7 linked regions of the Homo sapiens genome follow. The protein of the gene in region 1 purifies or fractionates together with the protein of each later gene. This does not show direct contact. Each region holds a gene or a part of one and is shown in the gene's direction. Other genes may lie near its edges.

The links.
Region 2: the proteins of FERMT3 (region 1) and IPP purify together in Homo sapiens (affinity purification with mass spectrometry; 2 studies listed by BioGRID and IntAct, with this or other methods). This does not show direct contact.
Region 3: the proteins of FERMT3 (region 1) and ALKBH2 purify together in Homo sapiens (affinity purification with mass spectrometry; one large-scale study listed by BioGRID and IntAct). This does not show direct contact.
Region 4: the proteins of FERMT3 (region 1) and PKP4 purify together in Homo sapiens (affinity purification with mass spectrometry; one large-scale study listed by BioGRID and IntAct). This does not show direct contact.
Region 5: the proteins of FERMT3 (region 1) and ITGB3 purify together in Homo sapiens (affinity purification with western blotting, with the first as the bait; one study listed by BioGRID). This does not show direct contact.
Region 6: the proteins of FERMT3 (region 1) and PARVB fractionate together in Homo sapiens (co-fractionation; one large-scale study listed by BioGRID). This does not show direct contact.
Region 7: the proteins of FERMT3 (region 1) and PDCD6 purify together in Homo sapiens (affinity purification with mass spectrometry; one large-scale study listed by BioGRID and IntAct). This does not show direct contact.

The regions. Positions count from the first base shown.
Region 1 is NC_000011.10:64,213,221-64,216,720, forward strand, and holds part of FERMT3 (fermitin family homolog 3 short isoform), read left to right. Parts: intron 1-3,500. UniProt on the Homo sapiens protein: Plays a central role in cell adhesion in hematopoietic cells. Acts by activating the integrin beta-1-3 (ITGB1, ITGB2 and ITGB3). Required for integrin-mediated platelet adhesion and leukocyte adhesion to endothelial cells.
Region 2 is NC_000001.11:45,716,154-45,719,653, reverse strand, and holds part of IPP (actin-binding protein IPP), read left to right. Parts: intron 1-313; coding exon 314-451; intron 452-2,636; coding exon 2,637-2,759; intron 2,760-3,500. UniProt on the Homo sapiens protein: May play a role in organizing the actin cytoskeleton.
Region 3 is NC_000012.12:109,087,689-109,090,472, reverse strand, and holds the end of ALKBH2 (DNA oxidative demethylase ALKBH2), read left to right. Parts: intron 1-265; coding exon 266-464; intron 465-1,960; coding exon 1,961-2,267; 3' UTR 2,268-2,284; downstream 2,285-2,784. UniProt on the Homo sapiens protein: Dioxygenase that repairs alkylated nucleic acid bases by direct reversal oxidative dealkylation. Can process both double-stranded (ds) and single-stranded (ss) DNA substrates, with a strong preference for dsDNA.
Region 4 is NC_000002.12:158,620,952-158,624,451, forward strand, and holds part of PKP4 (plakophilin-4), read left to right. Parts: intron 1-38; coding exon 39-170; intron 171-279; coding exon 280-470; intron 471-3,500. UniProt on the Homo sapiens protein: Plays a role as a regulator of Rho activity during cytokinesis. May play a role in junctional plaques.
Region 5 is NC_000017.11:47,284,827-47,288,326, forward strand, and holds part of ITGB3 (integrin beta-3 precursor), read left to right. Parts: intron 1-1,433; coding exon 1,434-1,596; intron 1,597-2,243; coding exon 2,244-2,405; intron 2,406-3,500. UniProt on the Homo sapiens protein: Integrin alpha-V/beta-3 (ITGAV:ITGB3) is a receptor for cytotactin, fibronectin, laminin, matrix metalloproteinase-2, osteopontin, osteomodulin, prothrombin, thrombospondin, vitronectin and von Willebrand factor.
Region 6 is NC_000022.11:44,027,302-44,030,801, forward strand, and holds part of PARVB (beta-parvin), read left to right. Parts: intron 1-3,500. UniProt on the Homo sapiens protein: Adapter protein that plays a role in integrin signaling via ILK and in activation of the GTPases CDC42 and RAC1 by guanine exchange factors, such as ARHGEF6. Is involved in the reorganization of the actin cytoskeleton and formation of lamellipodia.
Region 7 is NC_000005.10:274,646-278,145, forward strand, and holds part of PDCD6 (programmed cell death protein 6), read left to right. Parts: intron 1-1,366; exon of another isoform or gene 1,367-2,295; intron 2,296-3,500. UniProt on the Homo sapiens protein: Calcium sensor that plays a key role in processes such as endoplasmic reticulum (ER)-Golgi vesicular transport, endosomal biogenesis or membrane repair.

The DNA.
Region 1 (3,500 bases):
GTTTCACCATATTGGTCAGGCTGGTCTCGAACTCCTGACCTCAGGTGATCCACCTGCCTCAGCCTCCCAAAGTGCTGGGGTTATAGGAGTGTATTTTTTTAGTAGAGATGGAGTTTCACCATATTGGTCAGGCTGGTCTCGAACTCCTGACCTCAGGTGATCCACCCGCCTCAGCCTCCCAAATTGCTGGGGTAATAGGAGTGTATTTTTTTAGTAGAGATGGAGTTTCACCATATTGGTCAGGCTGGTCTCGAACTCCTGACCTCAGGTGATCCACCCGCCTCAGCCTCCCAAAGTGCTGGGGTTATAGGAGCGAGCCACTGCGCCTGGCCTAATTTTTTTTTTTTTTTTTTTGAGATGGAGTCTTGCTCTTGTTGCCCAGGCTGGAGTGCAATGACGTGATCTCAGGTCATCACAACCTCCGCCTCCTGGGTTCAAGCAGTTCTCCTGCCTCAGCCTCCCGAGTAGCTGGGATTACAGGCGTTGAGCCACCATGCCCAGCTAATTTTGTATTTTTAGTAGAGATGGACGGGGTTTCTCCATGTTGGTCAGACTGGTCTCGAACTCCTGACCTCAGGTGATTTGCCCACTTTGGCCTCCCAAAGTGCTGGGATTACAGGCGTGAGCCACGGCGTCGGGCCAGCTGTGCCTTTTTATTCTAGTGTTTTCTTCTCTATGACATATTTCCACTTCTTTGTTTTGCCATTTCACACATTATCTATTGACTTTGTAAGAAGGTTTCACTGTCTTACATTCTCTTCCCTGCCCACACAATACACACATTTCCTTGCCTCTTTCTAAGTGAGTAGTGTCTGTAGTCTTTGGTTAAAACAATGTGATATGGCTGTAAATAGTAACACATATAAATAGTGTTCCTAGTTAAGCCACAGAGTAACTATGATTATTTTTTCCCTTTTTGCTCAAATGGTTTTGAAGTTCATAATTGCCTTTTTTTTTTTTTTTTTTGAGATGAGTTTTGCTCTTGTTGCCCAGGCTGGAGTACAATGGCACAATCTCAGCTCACTGCAACCTCCACCTCGCGGATTCAAGCGATCTCCTGCTTCAGCCTCCCAAGTAGCTGGGACTGCAGGCACGCGCCACCATGCCCAGCTAACTGTATTTATTTATCTATTTTTGTTGTTGAGATGGAGTCTCGCTCTTGTTGCCCAGGCTAGAGTGCAATGGTGTGATCTTGGCTCACTGCAACCTCCGCCTCCCGGATTCAAGCGATTCTCCTGCCTCAGCCTCCCTAGTAGCTGGGATTACAGGCGCCCACCACCACGCCTGGCTAATTTTTTGTATTTTTAGTAGAGATGGGGTTTCACCATGTTGGTCAGGCTGGTCTCAAACTCCTGCCCTCAGGCGATCCACCTGCCTCAACCTCCCAATATGCTGGGATTACAGGCGTGAGCCACCATGCCTGGCCTACACTTTTCTTTCTTATTTTTCGGTTCTTTTTCTTTCTGTGTCCTACTCTCCGGAGACCTCTTCAACTTATCTTCTAAAATATCTATTGAATTTTTAATTTCTGTAACTATATTTTTAAGTTCCAAGAGCTCTTGTTTTTTGAGTGTTCTTTTATAGGGTTTTTTTTTTTTTGAGAGGGAGTTTCATTCTTGTTGCCCAGGCTGGAGTGCAATGGCGTGATCTCGGCCCACTGCAACCTCTGCCTCCTGGGTTCACGCGATTCTCCTGCCTCAGCCTCCCACATAGCTGGGATTACAGATGCCCACCGCCACCATGCCCAGCTAATTTCTTCTTGTATTTTGAGTAGAGATGGGATTTCACCATGTTGGCCAAGCTGGTCTCGAACTCCTGACCTCAGGTGATCCACCTGCCTTGGCCTCCCAAAGTGCTGGGATTACAGGCATGAGCCACCACGCCCGGCTCAGCTTATTTTTAACAAATGTGTATGGTTGTGCAACCATCACCACAATCCAGTTTTAGAACATTTCCACTGCCCCAGACAAGCACTGATTGCACGATGCCCATTTGCAGTCATTCCTCCTCCCACACCCCGACCACCACTGATCTGCTTTCCATGTGGCTTTAATTTACATTTCCCTGATGACTAATAAAGTTGAGTCCCTTTTCATAAGGCTATTAGCCATCTGGATATCCTGCTTTGTGAGGTTTCTGTTCAAACATTTTGACAATTGTCATATTGAGTCGTTTGTCTTTTTCTTATTGATTTGTAGGAGTTCTTTATATATTCTGGATATGAGCACTTTGCCAGATAAATACATTGTGAATATATTTTCCCCCTCTGTGCTTTGCCTTTTAATTGTCTGAATGGTTTCTTTTCATAAACAGCAGCTCTTTATTTTAATAGAACCAAATTTATATTTTTATCTTTCTTTTTTTATTTTTAGAGATGGGGTCTCGCTCTGTCACCCAGACTAGAGTGCAGTGGTGCGATCATAGCTCACTGCAACCTTGAACTCCTGGGCTCAAGCAATCTTCCTGCCTTAGCTTCCTGAGTGGCTGGGGCTACAGGCATGTGCCACAAGCCTGGCTAATTCTTTAAAAATTGTTTAGAGATGGAGTTTTGCTACGTTGCCCAGATTGGGTCTCAAGTTATCCTCCCGCTTCGGCTTCCTGAGAAGTTGGGATTTTTTTTTTTTTTTTAGACGGAGTCTCACTCTGTCACACTCAGGCTGGAGTGCAGTGGTACGATCTCGGCTTACTGCAACCTCCGCCTCCCGGGTTCAAGAGATTCCCCTGCCTCAGCCTCCTGAGTAGCTGGGATTATAGGCATCTGCCACCACACCCAACTAATTTTTGTATTTTTAGTAAAGACAGGATTTCACTATGTTGGTCAGGCTGGTCTCACACTCCTGACCTCAAATGATCCGCCCGCCTCGGCCTCCCAAAGTGCTAGGATTACACGCGTGAGCCACTGCGCCCAGTTACATTCCTTTAAAAAAAGAATATTCTGGTCTTGATTTATGAGTGCAGTGCTTTAGCTCTGTAAGGATTTTTTTTTTTTTTTTTGAGATGGAGTCTTCTTCTGTCACCCAGGCTGGAGTGCAATGGCAAGATCTCGGCTCACTGCAACCTCTGCCCCCCTGGTTCAAGCCATTCTCCTGCCTCAGCCTTCCGAGCAGCTGGGATTACAGGCATGCACCACCACGCCTGGCCTAATTATTTTTGTATTTTTAGTAGAGACGGGGTTTCACCACATTGGCCAGGCTGGTCTCAAACTCCTGACCTCGTGATCTGCCCGCTTCAGCCTCCCAAAGTGCTGGGATTACAGGCGTGAGCCACCGGGCCCAGCCTCTATAAGGATTTTTTCGCCGGGCGCGGTGGCTCACGCCTGTAATCCCAGCACTTTGGGAGGCCAAGGAGGGCGGACCATGAGGTCAGGAGATCGAGACCATCCTGGCTAACACGGTGAAACCCTGTCTCTACTAAAAATACAAAAAATTAGCCGGGCGTGGTGGTGGGCGCCTGTAGTCCCAGCTACTTGGGAGGCTGAGGCAAGAGAATGGCGTGAACCT
Region 2 (3,500 bases), on another chromosome or scaffold:
ATGTGAAAAAAAATATAGAAGTGTTAAAATGCAAATTGTATCCTAAAACATTACATGGATTGTTTGATTGTTTGGGTGGTAGAAATAGATAATAGGAAAATTGTGCCTCTGTTTCATAAGTGGGCTTTAATAAATGACAGTGCTCTAGATTCAAAATACTGCTTGACAGGCAAATGAAAGTTAATGAATAGTATAAAATCAGACATAATGGTTGAATTTTTGACGATAGGGAATACTACTGAATATTGTGTTATGGTGCTAGTCTGTTGGCATTACTAAACTTTATAATATTTGTCTCTTTTATTTAACTCAGGTGAAAAGGATTCAATGATTTTTGATTGTACTGAATGCTATGATCCAGTTACTAAACAGTGGACAACTGTAGCTTCGATGAATCATCCCCGCTGCGGCTTAGGAGTGTGTGTGTGTTATGGGGCTATCTATGCTTTGGGTAATTATGTTGTTCAGTTTAAAGATAGCTAATATTGTTTATGTATTTTTAATTTTCATTTTTGTGGATACATAATAGGTATATATATTTATGGGGCACATGAGATACAGGCACATAATGCGTAATAATCACATCTTGTAAAATGGGATATCCATCTCCTCAAGTATTTATCCTTTATGTTACAAACAATCCAGTTATACTCTTCTAGTTATTTTTAAATGTACAATTAAATTATTGACTATAGTCACCCTGTTGCACTATCAAATACTAGGTCTTATTCATTCTTTTTTTTTTTTTTTTGTATTCATTAACCATGCCCACCTCCTCCCTCCCCACCCCCACTACACTACCCTTCCCAGCCTCTGGTAACCATCCTTCTACTCTCTATCTCCATGAGTTCAATTGTTTTGATTTTTAGATCCCACAAAGAAGTGAGAATATGCAATGTTTATAAAGATAGCTAATATTATTTAAATTATTGGGTTCTGATGACTTTGGAGATGTTCTTTCCCTCTTTTCAGCTCTTTACATTCTTTTTTTAAAAACCAACTGGCTTTAATCTGTATACTCTGGAGGCTGGGCAAGGTCTTAGGGGAAGGTGTAGGTGGGGGTCAGCTGGTCAGGGATTGGAGGGGGTGCTCCTGGGCTGTCCATCCTAAGGAGGCACTCAGGCGGGGGATGGTACAGGAGGACCTGAGCACCTGCAGGGCAGAGCCTTGTTGGGCAGATGCATCAGTTCTTGGGCAGATGGTAGATGCCTGCCTGGCCAGTTGGCTGGCTGACCAAGCTGCTAGTCACACACATTCTTCTGCAGGTATCTCTGGAGCTACTGTATGCTGTAGATGCACTTGTCAGCTCTTTAAATTCTTATTCTCAAAATTGTATTACTGGAGATAAAATATAGATGAGACATCCAGTGAAGTACTTTAGCTGAGTAGTTAAATCTCATTATTTTAATTAAGCATATAACATTTTTACCACCCTGCATAGTGGCCTAATTATGTCTAATATAAGAAAGCACATACCAAAAAATTAAATATATCACAAGGAAGTTCTGTACTATATTATTTTTATTCTTGTATATGTAGTGAATGATTATGAGCAAGGTATTCTACTTTGATTATCTGTGTAACAAATGTTACAATCAAGGTTGTTCCTAGGGAAAGTTATAAGTTGATGTAGCTCTCAGCCTCCCCTATTTTCTCCTTCTCACTCCTTCTTCAGTTCACTGTAACTCAGTGTCTTCCCCTCATCCAAACCTATTGTGGAAAAAATATCAGTTACCTTAAGGTGAATTTAATCTATTATATTTTATTACCTCCATAAGTATCTGCATTTTTCAGTTAATTGTGGGAAATAATATTTTCAGTTTTAAGAATTGGAGAGTGTTGGCTGGACATGGTGGCTTACGCCTGTAATCCCAGCACTTTGGGAGGCTGAGGCGGGCGGATCATGAAGTCAGGAGATCGAGACCAACTTGGCTAACATGGTGAAACCCTGTCTCTACTAAAAATACAAACAAAATTAGCTGGGCGTGGTGGTGGGCGCCTGTAGTCTCAGCTACTCCGGAGGCTGAGGCAGGAGAATGGCATGAACCCAGGAGGTGGAGCTTGCACTGAGCCTGAGCCGAGATTGCACCACTGCACTCCAGCCTGGGTGACACAGTGAGACTCCATCTCAAAAAAAAAAAGAATTGGAGAGTGTTAAGAAAATGTTATTGTGGGGATAAGGGGCCTTTTTGAAATTCCTGAAATTACACCAAATACACGGTATACTCTGATTAGGTTTGGAGCTGGCCTTGATTAGGATAAACATTCTAAATAGCCAGAAGTAATTTCAAAAGGTAGTTTTGCAAAATACCATCTTTTCCATGCAATATATTGAAGTTTTGGGGCTTTTGTTGTTTTGTTTTGTTTTAGTCTTTAGTGAAAAATAGGGAGTTAAAAGACTTGAATTCCTTTTTTTTTTTTTTTTTTTTTTTCTCAAAAGAGCATCAGTTATGCAAAGGACCTGAGTTCTACTCATGGTCAAATTCTAACTTTTTCATGGGATCGTGGAACAGATAACCTCTTTGGCTCATGTGATATCTATAATATGAAGTATTTGGTTTAGATGTTTTCTAAGGTCTTTGTCATAAATAAGAATCTTTTATCCCGGAAACAAACATTTTTCTATTTCATTACAGGTGGATGGGTTGGAGCTGAGATAGGGAACACCATTGAACGATTTGATCCTGATGAAAATAAATGGGAAGTAGTTGGTAACATGGCTGTGTCACGCTACTACTTTGGGTGCTGTGAAATGCAAGGTAATCACTTTATAAAATATTTTTCCTCAAAATGTAGTTCTGAAAAACTGTTTGAGTTTGAGGCCTTATTTTCACAAAAGTATATTTTAAGTCTGTTAGTATTGAATGACTGATACTAGCAGCATAGAAGTTCTGCTTTTTACCTCCTATCATTGACTTTTATTTCTGTATTGCTAAAATAATTGATTTGATTTTTTCAGAAATAAACAAGGCTAGAATTAAAAATTGTAAGTAAGCAGGAATATCTGACTAGCACAATAAACATTTGAAGTGTTATCTGTTATTGTCTTTTCTCTCCCATGAACATCTAAGTAAATATTTCTAAGTAGGGAGAGAGTATCAGAAACAGTTTTTGGGTGTGGTGGCTCATGCCTGTAATCCCAGCACTTTGGGAGGCTGAGGCAGGAGGATCACCTGAGGTTAGGAGTTCGAGACCATCCTGGCCAACGTGGTGAAACCTCATTTCTACTAAAAATACAAAAATTAGCTGGGCATGTTACTACACACCTGTAATCCCAACTACTAGGGAGGCTGAGGCAGGATAATTGCTTGAACCCAGGAGGCAGAGGTTGCAGTGAGCGAGATGGTGCCACTGCACTGCAGCCTGGGTAACAGTGAGACTCTATCTCAAAAAATAAATAAAAATAAATTATTTTCATGGTCTATAGGCTTCTTTAGCGTTTTTTTTCTACAAAGTACATTGTGATGCCGCTCACATAACATATAATCCTGTGACAGATT
Region 3 (2,784 bases), on another chromosome or scaffold:
CTGGGTGACACAGGGAGACCCTGTCTCAAAGAAAACAAAACAAAAAGAAAATTTGGGGCAAGCCAAAATGATGATTGAAGAGGGGTTTAAATTGCATGGAATGACGGGGAAATGTTATTCCTTACTTCCCTTTCAATCTTGAATACCCAGGGAGCATGTATGTGGGGCACTGGATTTCTGGTGATGGCAGTGCGGGTTGGGGGGGGCATCTGGATTTCTAGATGGGGGTCAGGTAGAAAGGAACTGCCATGTTTCCTCTGCACAGGAGCACTGGCCAGAGTCCAGGTATTCGGGAAGTGGCACAGTGTGCCCAGGAAGCAGGCAACGTATGGCGACGCTGGGCTGACCTACACATTTTCAGGCCTCACGCTGTCTCCAAAGCCCTGGATCCCAGTTCTAGAGCGCATCCGGGATCACGTCTCTGGGGTGACTGGACAGACCTTCAACTTTGTGCTCATCAACAGGTGACACCCTGTTTAGTGGACTCAATGTTACAAGTCTTCTGTCTCCTCCAAAAGGAAGTGTTTAGGGTTCCACCCTATTTGGTTCATTGGTACAAATCATTTCTTAGTACACTGGGGCTCTAAGAGTGGAATAGCGCCAGCACTCGGTCTTCCTGGATCCTGGAGCTCATCCCGGAGTAGGAAGTGAGAGGTGATTAACTCCTGAACAAACAGCTGAATGAGATAATTTCTTCTTCTCTTTTTCTTTCTTTTTTTTTTTTGAGACAGGGTTTTTCTATGTTGCCCAGGCTTGGTCTCAAACTGCTAGGCTCAAGCGATCCTCCCACCTCAGCCTCCCAAAGTGCTGGGATTACAGGCGTGAACGACTATGCCTGACCCTAGACGATTTCAGACAGTGATAACCATCTTGCAAAAAATTAAACAGGCCGATTTGACTGAGAATGGCTGAGAGGTTTGCGATTAGGGCAAGGTTTCTCAACGGCAGCACTGCAGACATTTTGGGCCCAGTCATTCGTTGTTGTTGGGGCTGACCTGTGCCTTGCAGGATGTTGAGCAGATCCCTGGCCTCCATCCACTAGATTGCAAGTAGTGTCCCCCACCCCCCAATACCTGTCCCCTGGGGCAGAATCACCCTGGTGGAGAACCCTGGGTGGGTTTAAGGGAAGGTCACTTCAGATGGGGTGGTTAGAGGAGGGCTGAGGCAGTGCGTTTGAGCTGATAACTAAATGGAGAGTGCCAGCCACAGACATCTGGAGGGAGAGCAGAGGGACTCTGGAGTGTCTGTGAAGCAAAAATGCTGCAGGATGGCCGGAAAGCAGTGAATGAGGGAAAGAAGGGGATGGCATGAGCTCAGCAGTGGGCAGGGGCCGGGCTATGCAGAGTATGGCCTTTGAGTGCAGGGCAAAATCATGTGATAAAGGTTTACATAGACTGGCCAGGGGAACTACAGTAAGACGTGATTTTGGCTTTGGGTGTCTTCAGTTTTAAAGCACATGAACTGGCCGGACGTGGTGACTCATGCCTGTAATCCCAACACTTTGGGAGGCCAAGGAGAGTGAATTGCTTGAGCCCGAGTTTGAGACCAGCCTGGGTAACATGGTGAAACTGTTTCTGCAAAAGAAAAGAAATTAGCTAGGTGGGGTGGTGCATACCTATAGTCCCAGCTACTTGGGAGGCTGAAGTGGGAGAATCACTTGAGCCCAGGAGGCCGAGGCTGCAGTGAGCTATGATTGTGCCACTGCACTTCAGCCTGGGTGACAGAGCGAGACCCTCTCAAAAATAATAATAAATAAGTCACATGAACAAATACGTCAACAGACCTCTTCAGCGTTGGCTTATCTTAGAGCCCACTGTGGACCTCAAGCCCTCGCAGAAACAACGGCAGGTACAGCCATGCAGAGTGCTGTTTCACACTGTGAGGAAAACGAGGGCTGGCGGTGCTGGTGAGTTTCAGGAGAGGGTTGTTTTTATGCACTGTGTTTGTTTTCTCATTGCAGGTATAAAGATGGCTGTGACCACATCGGGGAGCACCGAGATGATGAAAGAGAACTGGCCCCTGGGAGCCCCATTGCCTCTGTCTCCTTCGGTGCCTGCAGAGACTTTGTCTTCCGGCATAAGGATTCCCGTGGGAAAAGCCCCTCCAGGAGGGTGGCGGTGGTCAGGCTGCCGCTGGCCCACGGGAGCTTACTAATGATGAACCACCCGACCAACACGCACTGGTACCACAGTCTTCCCGTGAGAAAGAAGGTTCTGGCTCCACGGGTGAATCTGACTTTTCGTAAAATTTTGCTTACTAAAAAATAAAAACATTTTTAACAGTTTTTCTCTTTTCTCTTTCCCTCTCGACTCTAAGAGGGAGCTGGCATTTCCCTTACCAACAGGGAACACAGAAAGGTTTAAAGCGTAGGGCTTGTTATGTAACAATGCAGAATTCAGAAAGATGATGTTTGTAACAGATCAGTGTATTACAAAAGAACACCAGGTGATTTTTTTCTAACAAAATGATTATTTTATTGCTATAATACACAGCAGATACAAAAGTACCTTTAGCAAATACATAAATCAGCAGTTATTATGGCAAAACTACTAGTTTAACTTAGGTTTTTCCCAAAAGAAGCTACTTACTTTGAAAATAAAACTAGAAATCAGATTATTGGGCTGCTACTTAATGCATAATAATTTACAAAATGAAGAAGTCAGGTTAAAAGGCTTTGCACAGCTATTGTTCACATTTACAGCCTTGGCTCAAACCCTGGTCTCTGACCAAAGAAAGATCTGCTTATAACCATATATTCCAAGGCTCAGCCCCTTTTCTCTATCT
Region 4 (3,500 bases), on another chromosome or scaffold:
GTTATTATATTTAGCTGATTAAACTTTTCTTGTTACAGACGTGCCAAATACTGGTGTAAGCAAACCTAGAGTTTCTGACGCTGTCCAGCCCAACAACTATCTCATCAGGACAGAGCCAGAACAAGGAACCCTCTATTCACCAGAACAGACATCTCTCCATGAAAGTGAGGGTCTGTTGTGTTATCTTTTAAGTACTGGATTTGCTTTTAAGATTTTATTCTTGAAAGCGAGTGTCAGAAGTGTGTATAATAAAGATATTTCTTGGTTTCATTCTTACAGGATCATTGGGTAACTCAAGAAGTTCAACACAAATGAATTCTTATTCCGACAGTGGATACCAGGAAGCAGGGAGTTTCCACAACAGCCAGAACGTGAGCAAGGCAGACAACAGACAGCAGCATTCATTCATAGGATCAACTAACAACCATGTGGTGAGGAATTCAAGAGCTGAAGGACAAACACTGGTTCAGGTAAGCCAAACGCATCAAGATCTCTGCAAAGAAATACCTTCCGGCCGGGCACAGTGGCTCATGCCTGTAATCCCAGCATTTTGGGAGGCCGAGGCGGGTGGATCACCTGAGGTCAGGAGTTCAAGACCAGCCTGCCTAACATGGCGAAACCCCGTCTCTACTAAAAATACAAAAATTAGCCGGGCGTGGTGGCGGGCGCCTGTAATCTCAGCAACTCGGGAGGCTGAGGCAGGAGAATCACTTGAGCCCAGGAGGCAGAGCTTGCAGTGAGCCGAGATCGCACCACTGCACTCCAGCCTGGGCGACAGAGCGAGACTCCGTCTCAAAACAAAAAAAAAAAAAAGGAAAAAAAAAGAAATACACTCCTAGTTGAATATCTGTTATAGGTATTTCTTATTAGAAATAAATGTGTACAATTTTTATAGAATGGATAAAATAGTAAAATCATTTTATTCTATTTGAGATACAATGTTAAATATGTTTGTTTCTATGAGTTAGCTCCCATTGATGAATTCTGATGAGTTCCTGGATACAGTAGAGTAATTCTTCTGGAAACAACAAGTTTGGCATGAGGAGAAGAGTCTAAGGGGAATGTAAGAGAGTTGAATGGAATGTTTTGGTCCCTGAGGGGTTATGAGTTCCTAAAAATACTAGGGCTAAAATATGCTATAAAAAGCTCTAGAGGGCAGGGTGCTATACCCACACCTGCATAAAATGGGATTTGCCCATTCTAACCAAAGGTTATTACCATCATCACTGGAATTATTCTCTAAAACTACATTTCTTTTCTTTTACTAGATAGAATACAGCTATTCCTGCTTAAAGAAAGTTATTGTATAGAAACATATCCATTCTGTTAAGTTAGGGTTCTCTAACTTGATAGCAAAAAATATATATTGCATGTATATTTATAAAAACTCTTCAGCTCCTTTCTCATTACCACTGTATTCACATCAGTCCACCAGCATGTCCCAGGATTCAGAGAGGCAATAGGAGTCCTGCATGGTGGTAACCAGTGAGGCTAACTATCTGTGCCAGGACCCCAAAACCCCAGTGCTTTCTTTAGAGCTGAAAAGTAGCAAGATAATCAAATAAGTTAGGAGGACACTGTGCTGCTTCTACTGCAATACAGGAAGCTCTACAGGTACACAGCAATGGGTCACGGTTCCCAACGCCCACAGAGAAACATAATACAACTTTGGCACTTTTGCTCAGCAATTCAGGAGAAATTTCAGAGTCATTTAAAACATGTTTGTATTAAACACAAATATAACATATGAATTTTTCAAGCTAAAATGGGAAATCTTGTGCATGTGGCAAGCAACTTCAGGCTGCACCCCAAGTCCTCAGATTATATATTTATTCTTTTGCTGTTGGGGATGCTTTGGTGGAAAAGTTTGAGAAGCTCTGGACTAAATGCTAATGGGAGTTCATCCGCTTAGGTGAATTTCTGTGTCAGCAGGTCTGAAATCACACTTTTCAACAGCAGTTACCTTATATCTATATAAATTTTATTGCCCTTAGTAATGATCATGTAAACACTTTTTTCTTTAAGAGTAAGTTGATTTTCTCACTAGAGCTAAAGAATTGTTTGCAAGGGGGTGTCTGAGACTTAATTTGCATGTAGTCTAGGCAACACATTTTCTAGTTGTCTGGACCAACTTATCACTTCATTTTGGTAGTTGCAAGTCATGTGGGATTTTCTTTGCATTTTGTTACCACTATTACCACCCAATCATGCTTTTTTTGTTGTTGTTCTTAATTAATAGAGACAAGGTCTCACTCTGTCACCCAGGCTGGAGTACAATATGGCAAAATCATAGCTCACTATAGTCTCAATCCCCTGGGCTCAAGCGATTTTCCTGACTCAGCCTCCTGGAGTAGCTAAGACTGCAGGCACATGCCACCATGCCCAGCTAATTTTTTTGTTTGTTTGTTTTTTGTAGAGGCTGGGCCTCACTATGTTGCCCTGGCTGGTGTCAAGCTCCTGGCCTCAAGCAATCCTCCCTCCTCAGTCTCCCAATGTGTAGGGATTATAGGTGTCAGCCACCACACCCAGCCCCAATCATGCTTGTTAACTTTCCAGCTGTCTACTAATTTTTAAACCCCATCTTTTTTGCCTTGTTGTTTACCATCCTCTTTCCTCCCCATGTCTTCTCCCCTGCTATTGCCTTCCCAAAATTGTTGAACTTGAACACACAGTGAGTTCTCACTGCAAGTGTTTCAGCCAGCCCAGTTGCATGCGACACCTGGAGGCAGAGCAGACATCCTCATATGACCCCTAAGGGTATACAAAGCCCTCATCTGATCCCTGCTTCTTTCCTTACCTCCCCACCTAAAAGTGGATGTGGGTTGATGACAACTAGACTCTAGCAGCCACTAAGGAGGTAACAGAGCAGCCTGGTCCTAGTCTTCTAACCTGGATCCCTAATGTCTTTATTTCTCAGTTGGCTCTCCTTTTTCCCATACATGTTTCCCTTGGGCCCCTTCTCCAGCCTAACCATTCCTTTTTATTGTTGCACAGCATGAAAAACAGTGTCCAGCACCTGCTGTAACTGCAGGAATCAACAGATTCAGAGTAGGATCAGCAATGGCAGAAATGTTCACTTTCCATCCTGGTCTTTTCCAGCTGTCTAGGCCAAGAACCCAAAAGAGGCTTTGACCATTCCTCCTGCTGGAATAGATTTGGGGGTGCCTTTTTTTTGCATCTCTTTAAATCCACCAATTAAAGCTAAGAACTCATAGATCAGAAGAGGTAAAAAGAAATGGCTAAAGTGAGAAGCTATGCTTGATCTAAAGGAATCAACAAATTTGCCTAGAGCACCTGTGTAGCCAAGCTGTTCCCCGAAGTAAATTCACAGTGGAGAGCGCCAGACCCACACTTGATCCAAATGTTCATTTATTCCACAATGAAAGAACATGTTCCTTTTGTTAATGGGACCAACCCATAAAGAAAAACAATGATAAATATTCCACTAGCTACATTTAGACTGATATATTCAAATTATATTCAAATTTTTGTTTTACATA
Region 5 (3,500 bases), on another chromosome or scaffold:
GTCTCCCTGTTTGGCAAATGGGCTAGCTTGTGGATCTGGAGTGTTGTGTCAATGGAGCCTAAGGCTGTTTGGAGAACCTAGAAAGAAAATTCATCAGCTTCTCAGTCTTGGTAACAAATAAATAGAAGGCAAGAGAGAATGGGAGGGAAATGACGTCAAAAGTAGAAAGAAATTTATGGATAAGGAAACCGAGAAATTACGATTACAGAAGGATCGATTCCATTGTTGGCATTATTGTCTTCATCAAGGCCGTGCATCCTGCAGGGTGAAAACAGAAGAAATGAAGTGCTAAGGAATATAAAAGAGTGGAAATGACATTTGTTGGACACTTTTATAGTCTGTAAATGGATAACTTGTGCCTCTGTTTGACACTTTGGCTTAAAACTGAATGGCTTATTTATTTAATCGGTGGAGACTGTGCAAATCCATGTATTAGAATAACTTACAATGCTGGTTGCTGAGCCTGAAAAGGTGTGAATTTACTTTTTAGTTTTCAAAGTTACGGCCAGGTGGGGTGACTCACTTCTGTAATCCCAGCACTTTGGGAGGCCAAGATGGGAGGATCACTTGAGCCTAGGAGTTTGAGTTCAGCCTAGGCAACATAGTGAGACCCCCATCTCTACAAAAATTACAAAAAAATTAGCTATGTGTGATGGCGCATGCCTGCAGTCCCCAGGACTACAGGGAGGCTGAGGTGGGAGGATTGATTGAGCCTGGGAGGTTGAGGCTGCAGTGAGCCATGATTGTGCCACTGCACTCCAACCTGGACAATGGAGCACAACTGTCTCTAAAAAAAAAAGAAAAAGTTTTGAAGTTATATGATGTGGCATTCAACCTTCTATCTGGGTTGTAAGGTTCCCAGGCAAGACATCAGCTATTAATTAAACACACTATTTTGACTGGGGGCAGAAATGCTCCTGTCTTGCATGATCTATCAATTTATTGATGGTTCAGGGACCTTAACTTACTGATGGACTTTTGCTTTATTGTTACTTTAGGAAAGTGTTAAGTATAAGGTGATAGTAATAGCAACTCGAGCCTCGCTCTGGTCTAAGTGCTTTGTGTGTATGAACTTACTTAAGTCTCACAACTCTTATGGGATATGTGCTATCCTGGCCCCTCTTTCATAGGTTGGATTGAGAGGCTTGCCAAAGGTCCCATGACTAGTACAGAGGGCACCTGGGATCTAAGCTCAGGGAGTCTTGTTTCCAGCTCAATCTCTTATCTTCTAGGTTAGCTGGATGGGGGTAATGTTGATGGGGAGCTTCAGATAATTTGAGGATTTTGGAGTCTGAACTGTCTGGGTAACTGTGGTTGTATGGAACTGGCCTTGGCATACCACTATCTATATTTGTCCCCTCTCTTTCCTCCCAATTCCCATGCTGCCTTTTCCATGAAGGTGTCTGCTTAAATTATCTCCCATCCCTCCCCAGTATGAAGACCACCTGCTTGCCCATGTTTGGCTACAAACACGTGCTGACGCTAACTGACCAGGTGACCCGCTTCAATGAGGAAGTGAAGAAGCAGAGTGTGTCACGGAACCGAGATGCCCCAGAGGGTGGCTTTGATGCCATCATGCAGGCTACAGTCTGTGATGTGAGTTTGGAGGACTTGGAGTGCCAGGTGTGGCTGGCATAGATCAAAATGGGAAAGGAAGTGACTGAACTCTGGGGATTTCTGGTGTAAAATGAGATGAGAACTAAGCAGGGCTTCCTGCAGTTATGAGTAGTAAGTTGCTCCTGATATTCAGCCTTGGCTTAGATCCACTCCCTGGCCTGAGCTGACATTTCTTTGAACCTCAGTGGTCTCAGATGTTCCCAGGGGAGAGCATCTTCCCATCTTCAGAGTTACTTCAGAGTTAAGGCTGAGTTAACTTAACCTCAGCAAAGTAGGCAGATGTTCAGATGAGATTTCTTCTAGCCCAGATCAGCTCTGTGGATGCACGTCAGTTTCTAGATGAGCAATGTGACTGTCATTAGAAGAGTTAAGTTTGGAGTTTAAGAAGATCTCATTCAGCTGCTTGAACTAATCAGCTATGAGACTGTTTTCTGAAGAGAATGAAACTCCTGAACTGGAAAGCTTCAGCTTCGGTTCCAAGGACTGGGACTGAGACCCTTGTTTTGAAGAAAAATAAGCTGTCCAGCCCTTTAGCCAGGGAGCACCTTGGGTCTCTGTTCTCTACCAGTGACATGGCTGAATTTGTTTTGTCTCCTCTGCCTTTGTTTTTTGTTTTCTTTTAACAGGAAAAGATTGGCTGGAGGAATGATGCATCCCACTTGCTGGTGTTTACCACTGATGCCAAGACTCATATAGCATTGGACGGAAGGCTGGCAGGCATTGTCCAGCCTAATGACGGGCAGTGTCATGTTGGTAGTGACAATCATTACTCTGCCTCCACTACCATGGTGAGATCTCTGGCACCACCTATGGTTTCTATTCATGATTGTGAGGGTTGCCCTAATCTAGGCAGAGTCTGTGTGAATATGAAAATGGCAGCCCCTCCTTCTGGGCAGGGTGCAGGGCTCGGTTCCAGCTTGCCCCTATCCCTTACCAACTGGACACCGTCATCCAGCATACAACCTATATAACCATTAGAGATGTCCCTGATTGTGGTGTTATCACTGCCTTCACTGTCACCAGCATAGCAGCAGCATCATGGGATCCAGAATGGACCCAAAGGATTTTTACAACCCAGCTGGAAAGCAGGTCTTCCTCTCCACTCTGATTAGCCCTTTCTTGGAATACCATACTAACTTGTGGTTATTGGAAGAAGACAGAGGAAAAAAAAGAGAAAGATTGGCCAGGCATATGATGGCTCATGCCTGTAATCTCAGCACTTTGGGAGGCTGAGGTGGGAGGATCACGTGAGTCCAGGAGTTTGAAACCAGCTTGGGAAATATAGTGAGACCCTGCCTCTACAAGAAAATGCAAAAATTCGTTGAGTGTTGTGGTTTGTGCCTATGGTCCCAGCTACTTGTGGGGCTGAGGCAGAAAGATCTCTTGAGCCCAGTAGTCTGAGGCTGCAGTGAGCTGTGATCTTGCCACTACACTCCAGCCTGAGTGACAGAGCAAGAACCACCCCTGCTTTTTTTTTTTTTTTTTTTTTTTTTTTTTTTTGATACAGAGTCTTGCTTTGTTGCCCAGCTGGAGTGCAGTAGTGCAATCTTGGCTCACAAGCTTCACCACCTCAGTCTCCTGAATAGCTGGGACCACAGGCATGCACTACCATGCCCAGCTAATTTTTGAAAACAGGGTCTTTCTATGTTGCCCAGGCTGGTCTCAAACTCCTTGGCTTAAGCAATCTGCCCTCTTAAGCCTCCCAAAGTGCTGGGATTACAGGTGTGAGCCATTGCTCCTAGTGGAGACCCCTTCTCTTAGAAAGAGAGAGAGAGAGAGAGAGAGAGAGAGAGAGAGAAAGAGGGGAAAGAACATAAAAGGCATGGTGAACAGGTCCTACGAGGAAAGATTAAAGGGCCAGAGTCATTTAGCTTGAAAGAAAG
Region 6 (3,500 bases), on another chromosome or scaffold:
GTCCAGTGGGCCAGGATGGAGGTCGGGGACAGCCCAGCTGCTGCTGGAAGTCCTCAGAGGCGGATGGCCGGCCCTGGCCAGTGTGGAAGAGGTCGGGTGGAGTGCTCCACACATTTGCCACAAGAGGCCTGTTCTGTGCTGCACCAGGCACTGGACCTCAGGCGCCACTGCCCAGTGGCCAGGGTCAGGTTTCTCAGAGACAGCTGAAGGCAGCGGGGCGAGAGCAGCCAGTCTGGAGGTTCTGTCCCTCTTTTCTGAGCAACACATTCAGGAAGTTTCTATCCCCTGATTACCTTAAAAAATATGTATGTGTGGGCCAGGTGAGGTGGCTCACGCCTGTAATCCCAGCACTCTGGGAGGCCGAGGTGGGTGGATCACCTGAGGTCGGGAATTCGAGACCAGCCTGGTCAACATGGTGAAACCCCATCTCCAGTAAAAACGCAAAAATTAGCCGGGCATGGTGGCGTGTGCCTGTAATCCCAGCTACTTGGGAAGCTGAGGCAGGAGAATCGCTTGAACCTGGGAGGTGGAGGTTGCAGTGAGCTGAGATTGCCTCACTGCGCTGCAGGCTGGTCAACAGAGTGAGACTCCATATCAAATAGAAAAAAAAACCATATATATATATATATATATATATATTCATGTGTGTGTATATATATTCACATATATATATTGACGTATATTTTTAAAGCAGTTTTAGGTTTACAGCGAAATCTAGCAAAGAATACAAAGTGTCCCCACCTATCCCTTCTCACCTCCATCAGTGCCCCCCGGCTGTGTGGTAGAGTCGTGAGCCAACGCTGAGACATCATTATCTCCGCAAGCTCATAGTTTACATTAGGGGTTGCTCTTGCCGTTGGACATTCTGTGGCTCTGGATGGATGTAGAGTGACATGGACCCACCATTACAGTCACCTCTGGAGCAGCGTCACTGACCCCAGAATCCTCTTTCTGCTGCCTATGCATCCCTCCGTTTCCCCAAATCCCTGGCAACCACGGATCATTTTTTTGTTTTGTTTTTTTGGTTTTTGTTTTTGTTTTTTTTACTGTATCTGTGTTTTTGCCTTTTCCAGACTATCATCTAGTTGTGATCATAAAGTGTACAGTAGCGTTTTCAGATTGGCTTCTTCCACTCAATGATATACATTGAAGGCCCTTCCATGTCTTCTCAGGGCTTGGTAGCTCATTCCTTTTTTGACTGAATAATATTCCGTTGTCTGGATGTGCCAGTTTGTTGATCCATTCACCTGCTGAAGGACATCTTGGTTGCTTCCAAGTTTTGGCAGTTATGAATAAAGCTGCTGTGTACATCTACGTGTAGGTTTTTGTGTGGAGATAAGGTTTTAATTCATTTGAGCTCAATTGCTGGATCGTATGGTAAGAGTGTGTCTCGTTTTGGAAGAAACTGCCAAACTCTCTTCCAAAGTGGCTGTGCCACATTTATTCACCGGTGGCGAACGAGAGTCCTGGCTGCTCTGCATCCTCACCAGTATTTGGTGGTGTCAGTGTTCTGGATTTTGGAATTCTGTTAGGTGTATTGTGGTGTCTTGTTGCTGTTTCAATTCGCATTTCCCTGATGAGGTATGAAGTGGAGCATCTCTTCAGATGCTTATTTGCCATCTGTGTATCTTCTTCAGTGAAGTGTCTATTAAGGTCATTGGCTCATTTGTATTTTATTTATTTTTATTTTTATTTTATTTTTGAGATAGGGTCTCACTGTAGCCCAGGCTGGAGTGCAGTGGCACGATCCTGGCTCACTGCAGCCTCAATCTCCTGGGGCTCAAGTGATCCTCATGCCTCAGCTTCTGGAGTAGTTGGGACTACAGGCACATACCACCATGCCCAGCTAATTTTTCTATTTTTTGTAGAGATGGGGTCTCGCTATGTTACCCAGGCTGCTCTCAAACTCCTGGACTCAGGAGATCCACCTGCCTTGGCCTCCCAAAGTGCTAGGATTACATGCGTGAGCCACAGTGCCCGGCCTTGGCCTATTTTTAAATCTGCTTGTTTGTTTCCTTACTGTTGAGTTGGAAGTGTTCTTCATATATTTTGGATACAAGTCATGTGTTTTGCAAATATTTTCTCCCAGCCAGCGGCTTGTCTTCCCTGTCTCTTGATCCTGATATCTCCTAAGCATTTGATGTAGAGTTAATGATTAATGAGCAAGATATTGAGACCTCATCAACTAGATCTAAAGAAATCACTAGGCCAGACACATAATCCCAGCACTTTGGGAGGCTGAGGCAGGTGGATCACCTAAGGCCAGGAGTTTGAGACCAGCCTGGCCAACGTGGGGAAACCCGGTCTCTACTAAAAATAGAAAAATTAGCCAGGCGTGGTGGCTCACGCCTGTAATCCCAGCACTTTGGGAGGCTGAAGCGGCAGATCACCTGAGGTCAGGAGTTTGAGACCAGCCTGGCCAACGTGGTGAAACCCCATCTCTACTAAAAATACAAAAATTAGCCGGGCGTGGTGGCACACACCTGTAATCCCAGCTACTCAGGAGGCTGAGGCAGGAGAATCACTCGAACCCGGGAAGCAGAGGTTGCAGTGAGCTGAGATCGCGCCACTGCACTCCAGCCTGGGAGACAAAGCGAGACTCTGCCTCAAAAAAAAAAAAGAAAAGAAAAGAAATCACTAGGTAGCTGCGACATTGAACTGAAGGTTGAAAGTATTAAGTTTCTTTGTGGACTTTAAATAACCTTCAGGAGAGAAATCTCAAAGCTCTAAACCAGCAACCGAGAATTTCCTTCAGGGCATCCATCTTTTACACGGAGCCATCAGTTGTGTAGATGATGGGTTGCCCCAAAACACTAAGACGCACCAGTGAAGGGAGGGGAGCTGTGGCAGGGGGGCCTGCACTGCCCCCGCCTTTCCCCCCAGCAACGCCTGGGCTGGGAGCTGGGGGTGGGTGAGACCCTGGCTCAGGCCCCACTCAGGACAGTTTGAGGGACAGGCAGATGGGGGGACTGAGCCATGGGGGTCTCACCACCCAGACTTGGGGTTTTGGGCCTCCCTGGAGGAAGTGGTCCTGGCTGAATGTCTAGGATGGATGTAAATTAGCCCAGGGAGGGGGAGGGGGCTCCTGAGGAGACCCCCAGGCAGGCTCCCAGTGGCTGAGCAACGGTGCAGCCTGTGGGCTGTGGCCAGCCCTGGTCGGGGGCTGGAGAGGTGAGCAGCCCTGGCGTCCCACAAACACAGGAGCTTGGAACCCTTGCTGGGGCTTGGCAGGGGTGGCCGATTTCAGTGGTGCTTTGGGGAGTGGGGAATGGACGGAATGGGGGAACGGCGGGGAGGCAGGCTGGCAGGAATGTGGCACGGGGCACAGGCAGTGCCCCGAGGAGGTGGCGTGGGTGGGCGCAGGCGTGGCTGTGATTTCCACGCTGTTTTCTAGCGGGCTGCAGCCCCTCTGATGCTGAAATGAAAAAGGACCCAGATCCTTGTTTGTGGGAGGGGTGGGAAAGGATTTGCAAGGAGTGTGGTCTCTTTTGGACGATTTT
Region 7 (3,500 bases), on another chromosome or scaffold:
TGATGGTTTCCACTTACTCAACACTCACACGCTGGGCTAGGCACTTAACCCAAATCCAAGGTCAGCATTATTGTTTGGGGGTGGGGGAGACACCTCCTGCTCTGACTTGTGTGTTTGGGTTCCTGTATTTTCACCAGAGGGAGTTAGTCCTGCCCCAGTTCAGCTGGTCCTCAAAGTGTATATAGCTCTTTAACCATCAGCAAGTGTCTATCAGAACATAATCTTGATTTCAGCTGCTACTAAATATCTACCAGGAGACTGCTTGAGAGAATTGCCTGATGGGTGCTGAGTCCACCATTCCTGAGATACTTTGAAATCAGTGGCTTAACCCAAGCTGTGTATCGGGACCCTCTCACCGTGGTCCCAATGGAGTCACTTTTCTTAGGCGCCCCCCTTTACCTTGGGCTCTGAGCTTCCTCTGCCTTTCATCTCTGTGGGATGAAGCCCCACCGCCCTTCAGGATGCAAAGCCCTCTTCTCTAATGTGAGTGCAGGGCCAGGTGCAGTGGCTCACGCCTGACCTCCCAACACTTTGGGAGGCCGAGGCAGGGGGATCCCTTGAGCCCAGGAGTTTGAGACCAGCCTGGGCGACACTGTGAGACCCTGTTGCCTGAATTGCCCTGGGAGATTTCCTCAGCTTGTGCTGGGGGCATGTGGCCCCATGAAGCCCGTAGTCACTGTTCACCCTGAGAGACGCTGGCTTTCGGGCTCACACACCTGCTGCGGGGCAGCCCCAGGAAATGGCCACCCCATTTCTCCTGGAGCTGCGCGTGTTCTCAGAAACTGTGGTGGCCGTTCTGTTTTGTTTGCATCTTATAAACGTTTACCTGATGACATTTTCCTCTTCAATTTAGCTGCTAGAAAATTTAAAGTCAGGTTGGTGGCTCACCAGTAATGAGAGTTTAGAGTAGAAGTAAACTTTATGACATAGTCTTAGACTCTTCACTTTCTTCTCAACCAATATGATTCACATTTACTTTATTTTGCTGTACCGTGAGTGTCTCTGTGTTTCCTGAATTCCTTCTGGAATAAGGCAGGTTGTTAGTAAGCACAGGTTTCTGGTCCATCTCACAGCCTCAGGCAGTGGGCATTGCTGTCGGTGCTCCCTTTCCGGGTTACCTGTGGTAGCTCTCAAGTTGCAGGGCTGCGATTTGAAGCCTGATTTAGTACACCGTGTTTCTGTTGTGTTCTGTGGTGGTTTGCTCCTCACATGTGAGCATTCACCGTGGCCCTGTGTTTTTCCACCACACCTCTGCCTGGTGGCATCCTACTGGATGTCTCAGCCGAGCCACTCTGTTCTGAAGATGCCCTTGTCCTCCACCCCTTTGCTTTGGGCTCTAAGCTTCTTCTGCCTTTCATCTCTGTAGGATGAAGCCCCACCCGCCCTTCAGGATGCCAGCCTTGGCAACATTGTGAGACCCTGTTTCTACAAAAAGTAAATGAGTGTAGTGGTGCACGCCTGTATTCCCAGCTACTTGGGAGGCTGAGATGGGAAGATCACTTGAGCCTGGGAGGTTGAGGCTGCATTGAGCTGAGATCAAGCCACGGCACTCCAGCCTGGGAGACAGAGCGAAACCCCATCTCAAAAAAACAAAGAAAGTGGATGCGCGCTGCTCCTGCCATTGGATCATCGCAGCATTTTTCTTTTCTCTGATATGCACCTTTTTCCTCATCGTGGGGGCTCACGTTTTCATAGTTCCCTCTCACTACTAGGTTGTGAGCTGCGTGAAGGAAGGTTCATAGTTGTGTTGTATGTACAGGCACACAAAATTTGTCCTTGGATAAACACATATCCTCTTCCTTCTTCTCTCTGAATTTCTTTATTTTAAGAAAAAAATTAGAGATGGAGTCTCACTGTCTTGCTCAGGCTGGTCTCAAACTCCTAGGCTCAAGTGATCCTCCTGCCTCAGCCTATACTAATATGAATTCCTATACTAATATGATTGAAATTAGTTTGATTTCTATAATAATTGTGCTCCCAGATTGGGCTTCTGTTTTGATAGTAGAACTAAATTATTAGGCTATTTCAAGAAATTAATATATTACTGGTAGAAAAACTGAAGCTACAAAATGGCCTGGTTTCTCACTTCAGTTAAATTTGTGCTTCTGAGTGCTTGTATTCTAGGTGAAACCACACTGAGAAGGTATTTGTGGCCCATACACTGATTCCTTCATGAGACTTGTTTGCACAGGAGAGCTGCTAAAAATTACTGCTCTCAGGGAGGTCTGTGGTGAACAGGTATGAAGAAGAAGACTGTTCTCTGCCCTTCTTTTTGCAATAAAATGTTCCAAACTATCTTGAGTTTGATCCCTTTTCGGGTGTTTGGGGTTTTTTTAACATTCACATATTTCTTGGAATTATAAGAAATTAACTTTGTGCTTCTGAAGTAGGTTTGCCTTAATATAACACTGATGTATTTGTAAGGGGCATTTTTAAAGCTGTACTTTAAAAAATAATAATTCTTACATTCGTTTGAAGGTTTTTTTATGTGTGTTTTTGAGACAGAGGCTTGCTCTATCGCCCAGGCTGGAGTGCAGTGGCACGCTCTTGGCTCACTACAACCTCCGCATCTGGGGTTCAAGCGATTCTCCTGCCTCAGCCTCCTGAGTAGCTGGGACTACAGGTGCCCACCACCACGCCCAGCTAATTTTTTGTATTTTTTTTTTTTTTTTTTTTTTGAGGCAGAGTCTCTGTCGCCTAGGCTGGAGTGCGGTGGCACTATCTTGGCTCACTGCAAGCTCCGCCTCCTGGGTTCATGCCATTCTCCTGCCTCAGCCTCCCGAGTAGCTGGGACTACAGGCACCCGCCACCATGCCTGGCTAATTTTTTGTCTTTTTAGTAGAGACGGGGTTTCACCGTGTCAGCCAGGATGGTCTCGATCTTATGACCTCATGATCCACCCGCCTCAGCCTCCCAAAGTGCTGGGATTACAGGCGTGAGCCACCACGCCCAGCAATTTTTTGTATTTTTAGTACAGACAGGGTTTCACCATGTTAGCTAGGATGGTCTTGATCTCCTGACCTCTTGATCTGCCCACCTCAGCCTCCCAAAGTGCTGGGATTACGGGCGTGAGCCAGGGGGCCAACATGGTGAAACCCTATCTCTACTAAAAATACAAAATTAGCCGGGAATGGTGGTGCGCGCCTATAATCCCAGCTACTCGGGAGGCTGAGGCGTGAGAATCACTTGAACCTGGGAGGCAGAGGTTGCAGTGAGCTGAGATAGCGCCACTGCACTCCAGCCTGGGGGGCAGTGAGACTCCATCTCAAAAAAAAAAAAAAAAAAGAATAGAATAACCCTTGTTTAGGTGTTAACAAAATCCAGGCCAGACAAATCTAAACTTTAATCTCATACCCAGTTCCTAGATGAGTCCCTTCTCCAGCTCAGGTTCCGCCTAAGCCTCAGGGTTCCTTACTTGGTGGGCACCACCTGCTCCCTTCCCCACCTTTGTCCTCTTTTTCCTCTGCTGGCTCCTCCGGGGTTGGGTGTGTTCAGAGGCA